2 separate regions of the Homo sapiens genome follow, and region 2 is linked to region 1. Evidence: fine-mapped expression QTL. Tissue or cell type: skeletal muscle. Region 1 holds a variant in brackets; the other region holds the start of a gene. All regions are shown on one strand. Distances are between the middles of the regions.

Region 1 (2,681 bases):
TCATCCAGCAGAAGAGAGGTGGTCTGTGCCCTGAATCCTGGCTCAGTGCCCACCGGGATTATCCAATGGGCAGAGCCCCCTCCTGCCCCTCTTCAGCACCCTAGTACACTTGTTGTGAGCCCCCTGTGTAAGTGTGGGGCCCTAGACAAGCAGAGAGATGACAAGGAAGGGTGGGGGAGAGATGTGGGAAGGTGGAGCTAGTTGGGAGACTGCCCAGTCAACAAAACATGTGCTGAAGCACCCTAAGGTGCTCCAGTACAGGCAGGGGATAGCTGGACCTCCCTCCCTTGTTCTCAGCATGTTTGCCTTTCTCTTTTCCTACTGCAGAGGAGTATCCAGCCTGCTGAAAACTCCAGAGGCTCACCTTGACCCTAAATTCAAAACTCAAGCCAGGACCGAGCGCGGTGGTTCACGCCTGCAATCCCAATGCTTCGGGAGACTGAGGCGGGCGGATCACAGAAGTTGGAGACCAGCCTGGCCAACATGGAAAAACCCCGTCTCTACTAAAATTACAAAAATTAGGCATGGTGGCACATGCCTGTAATCACAGCTACTCCGGAGGCTGAGGTGGGAGAATTACTTGAACCCGGGAGGCGGAGCTTGCAGTGAGCTGAGAAGGCACCACTGCACTCCAGCCTGGGCAACCTAGTGAGATTCTGTCTAAATAAAATAAAATAAAATAAAATAAAATAAAATAAAATAAAATAAAATAAAAAAAACTCAAGCCAGGGCTTCTGATTGGCCCAGTGTGAATCACGTGTCCTTCACTGAGCCAATCAACATTGCCCAGGAGGGTAGGCTCTGTAAACGATGGCAGCTCCCATTCTAAAATCAGGGTTAACATGGGTTGAAAATGATTCCTTGTAGACAAAACCACAGATATCCACACCAACCTTGGGCATATAGAGATACATGGAGCCTCACTTTTCTGACCTGTAAAATGGAGCTAACTATTGTGCCAACCTCACTGGGCTGTCTCAAGGGTTAAAGTAGATAAACAAGTGTGCTTGGCACACTTTACAGATATTCGAGAAATGGAAGGCAAGTGTGATTTAGGACCTCTCTGGCGTCAGTCAACCCCTCTCTAAAATGGATGTCCTGCTCGATCTCCCCAACCCTGATGTCCCAGGATCCCATGGCCCAGGGCCTCCGTGCAGGTGGTGAGTGACCACAGACCTTCCTCTCAGAGATCTAGTGTCCTCCGTCTATTCCTGGGAACTGAAATCTCCTCCTGCTGCTCTTCCCCTCGCCAAGGAATGTTTCTGGCCCCCTGTGACCGCCCTCAACACCCCACATCTCTGCCTAGAGTCCTGGGAAGAGCATGTACAGGGCTATT[C/T]TGAGCTGGGGAACCAGAGTTCAGACCGCAGTTCTGGCTGGGTGATCTTGCTCAGGCACCTTAAGCCCTCTGTGCCTTAGTTTCCTTGACTGTGACAATGGGGTGGTGAATAGTAGAAACTCTCTCGTAGGGCTGTTGTGTATATGGCCCAGCACAGAGCGAATGCCATGTAAAAATCTTAGCCATTCCCGTTGTTAACACTGCTGGCCCTCGCTCCATCTGCTGCGGAAATAGCACGGACAGGTCAGAGTGAGCTGAGCGCTGGGACAGAGCCATAAACAAGACTGACTGACGCCGGTCCTGTCCTCCTGGAGCTCCCATCCTGATGGAGGCAGACACATCAACGGGCAATTTCAATGCAGCGTGACCAGGGCCACTCTCAAGGGAAGCCTGGGCGGCCGGAGCAGGGGCCCAGCCCCACGGATAGAGGGTGAGGGCAGGCAGCCAGGAGAGGTGATGGCTGGAAGACAGTGCAAGTGGACCGGGTGAGGGAGTTCAGGGTGCATCCAGGCAGAGGGGCCAGACAGTATTCAACCTTGAGAGCTGACCGGGGGAGACACAGGCTGATCTTGGCCAGTTCAGGTGGAGGGAAGGTGGGTGAGGTGGGCATGGAGGGCGTCCAGGTGGAGGCAGTTGCTCTCCCAGGCTGAGTGTGGAGCCTCAGCCCCGCTCTCTCCCTGGACTGTGCCTGTGTGTGATTTTGTGTAACTGAGATTATGTGTGTATGTGTGTGGCTGTGTAGGGGGTGGTGTGTTTGTGGGTTTGTTCCTCGGCAGGGTTGTGGTGAGGGTGTGAAAAATAGTGTGTTTGGAAAGGGTATGCCTATTTGAGACAGTTTAGGGTGTGACCACTGTGTGTGAAGTTGTGTGTGTGACGCTATACGCGTAACTGTGTGTCCATGAATGTCCCTGAGACTGTGTGATGTGTGGCTGTATGTAGCTGTGTATTATGTGTCTTTCTGTAGGTATGAGTGTATAAGTGTGTGTATGTATGTTAGACACACATGCACTGCTGTCTGTGGAGACCAGGGCAATGAGAGCTGCTCCCCCACTTCCATCCAGCCCTGCCGCAGAGGAGACACACACACACACACACACACACACACACTCCTGGGGCTGGGAGGGGTGGCTGCCTGTCGCTGCCACAGCCAGTCAGAACTTGCTAATTTGCATGTTAATGAAGCCCGGGGAGCTCTCCAGCTCCAGACTGACAGGAGCCCCTGGCACCCCATCCTCCCCTGACAAGACTGGGAGTGAGGAGCGGGGAGGGCTGAGAGACGGCAGAGGGAAGAAGAGACAGAGGAGGCTCTGGGATGAAGCTCCCCTTTCTCTTTCTCTCACTCCAT
Region 2 (2,681 bases), 35 kb after region 1:
GACAGCTAGGGAAGTGGAAAAAAGCATCCTGGGTGGGTATGGACAGATCCCCAGCTCTCAACACCCTGTCCTCACACCAGCAGGGGCCATCACCAGTGACCCCCATCCTGATCTAGGTAAGGGGGGCAGCAGCCACCCCATGGAGAACTCAGATCTCAGGTCACCTGCCGAGTTCCCCACTCCAGGCTGGTTGGTGCCCTAGGGTGAACTCTGGCACCACAAGAAGAACTGTGGGCCCATGGTCACACTCCTCACCCTGGGGACAGCTCCAGGAAGCGCAATGATAGAGATTTGGGAGGGAAAGCCGGCATTGGCCCCAAGTCATTATTCCAGCGCTCTAAGAAGGGTGCCCTGGTGGAAAGGGTAAAACAAGAGTCACACAAAGCAGACTTGGGGGAGGAGGGGGAGGCTCCCCAATGTCCGCGGCCTGGGAATGGGTTCCTCTGCTATGCCCCCAAGGACAGGGTGGGGACGTGCCTCGGGGACGCCTCAAAGCGGCAGTCCCTTGTCACCCTACCAGACCTCCCACCCCGCATCCCTCCCCGCAAGGGAGCACGCACACAGCTGCTCCCAGTACGCCCCCGCCCGTCCGCTGGCCGGCCCCACGCCCTGGGCGCACACTCTGTGACCCCGGGGGGTGCCAAAAAGCCCTCCTTCTGACGGCCCTCCTGGAGCCCAACACACCTAGCAGCCCCTGGAAGCCCCAGTCGGCGTCCCCAGCCCCCTCCCCAGCCGGACGCCCCCACCTTCCAGCCGGCCGAGCTGTTGCTGTCGCCTTTATCCTTGAAGTAGGGCACGTAACGGACCATCCAGTCGTAGATCTGCGAGAGCGTGAGCCGCTTGTCCGGGGCGCTCTCGATGGCTTTGGTGATGAGGTCGGCGTAGGACAGGTTCCCCCACGCGTTCCGCCGAGAGCTCTTCGCTTTCCGCAGCGGTCCGACCTCCGCGCCCAGGGGCGGCGCTGGGGCCATCGCCGGGGCCGTAGCCCGGCGCTCCGGCCCGCAGTCCTCGGCGCCCTCGGCCACCCCTGCGCCCAGCGCTCCGTCCTCGTCGCCGGCCAAGTCAGGCTGCGGCAGGGGCCAGGTACACGAGCGCGGCCGGCTCTGCGGCGCGAAGTCCGGGTCCACGTCCACCTGATGCGCTCGCAGCTTCGCAGCCATGGTCCCGCCCGGCTCGGGCGAGGAGGGGAGGGAGGCTTCGCGGAGGGTGGGCGGGCGGCTCCGGGATCTGCACGCCCCGGGGAGGCCCGCGGGAGGGGTCCCTGGCGGCGCTGTCTCAGCCGCGGGGCGCCATGGGCCGAGGCGCGGAGGCAGGGGGCTGGACGCGCTGGGGAGCACGAAGGGAGGGAAAGACCTGGGCAGTGAGGGGGCGGCGGCCCGGGAGCCCAGCGGGCACACACCTCGCCCAGCCCCGCTTCTAGCACCTGCCGCCTGCCTGCGCCTGCAGCCACCACCGCCACCGCCGCTGCCGCCGCTCCCCGGGCGCCGGCCCTGCGCACGGGCCCTGCTCTCCCGGGACGAGGCCGGATTGCACCATGCCGGAGCCCGAGCCGGTGCCGGAGCCCGCGCCGCCGCCGCCCGGTGAATGCTGCCGCCGCCGCCGCTCCGGCTCCAGCGCCAGCTCCCGCGCCTGCCGCGCTCAGCGCCGGCTGCACCTCGGGATGGGCGGGGGACGGGGAGGGGGCGGGCCCGACGCGGGAGGGGGCGGGGCGTTTCGCCTGCGGCCGCGGAATCCTCAGCCAGCCCAGGTGCCCCGCCCGCGGGCTGGGAGACCGGGCGCTGAGCTCCCAGCTCGGGGCGACCCCGCCGCAGCCCCTGCAAGCAACAGCGCCGCCTACGGAGCAGGGGCGGAGCGGCTGGCGCGACCCCGCCCCCTGCTCGGCGCGGAGGCGGGGGGGCTAGGGGGCGGAGCCCTAACACTCCCATTGGTCCGCGGCTGGACTGTCCTGCCCATGGGCTCGACAGGATCCCTCCCAGAAGCGCGTCACCGGTTATTGTTACAACCCGGGGTTTCCCGGGGCAACGGGATGGGGCGGGGCTCAGGGCACTGGCCCCGCCTTCTACTCCGGAGAGGACTGCCCCGCCCTCTGTTTGTAGACTCCTGACGTTCCCAAGTCTCCGTTCCAGGACTCTGACAGGGAGGATGATCGAACTCTGCTCTTCTTTGTGCCCTGGACTGAGCTGGGGAAAAAGAATGGGTCAAGAATACCTGGGTTCTAGGCTAGGCTTTGCCACAATTCTCGCTCCTCCATCCGCAAACATGTTCTTCATGGTGCCTGTGGTCATAGTTTTAGAGCTCCAGTTCTCAAAGTTTGACGCAGAGCAGAATCATCCCCTAGAGCTTGTTAACATTGCTGGACCCCAACTCCAGAGTTTCTGATTCGGCAGGTCTGGGTTGGGGCCCCAGACTTTGCATTTCTAACCAGCTCCCAGGTGATGCACGAGAGACCACACCTTGCAAACCATTGTTTTAGAGTCTGTGGGAGGTTCTTACTGCGGTTGTTGGAACAAGCACTTGTCTAAAGTTCACAGTGTTTGGGGAGATGCTTCTCAATCAGTTCCTGGATATTTATTGAGCACCTCTGACGCACCAGGCACTGTCCAGGGCTCTACAGTGAGAGCAGCAACTGAAACAAATGAGGTCCCCTACTGCATAGACTAGTCAGGAGTCAGATGCTAATC

Direction of the effects. Positions count from the first base shown, and alleles are read on the strand shown. Sizes are in standard deviations (SD) of each study's normalised expression.
For the expression in skeletal muscle of the gene that starts at base 1,657 in region 2, T is the high allele of the variant in region 1 and C is the other (moderate effect, 0.54 SD a copy in GTEx).

The links. PIP is the estimated chance that this variant, and not a neighbour inherited with it, causes the effect.
Region 2: FOXO6 starts here. The variant in region 1 is fine-mapped to the expression of FOXO6 in skeletal muscle (GTEx, PIP 0.95).

Annotation. Positions count from the first base shown.
Region 1 is chr1:41,395,277-41,397,957 of GRCh38, reverse strand. No RefSeq gene overlaps it. Among named protein-coding and RNA genes, the nearest start is that of FOXO6-AS1, 21 kb to the right of the region's middle. RefSeq lists an enhancer at 2,456-2,681. The variant C/T (reference allele first, on the strand shown) is at 1,337.
Region 2 is chr1:41,360,410-41,363,090 of GRCh38, reverse strand. It overlaps FOXO6 (forkhead box O6), which reads right to left and starts at 1,657. Exons shown (of 3, transcript NM_001291281.3): 1 at 747-1,657. The coding sequence starts at 1,160. RefSeq lists silencers at 942-1,161, 1,362-2,021 and enhancers at 1,820-2,114, 2,182-2,251.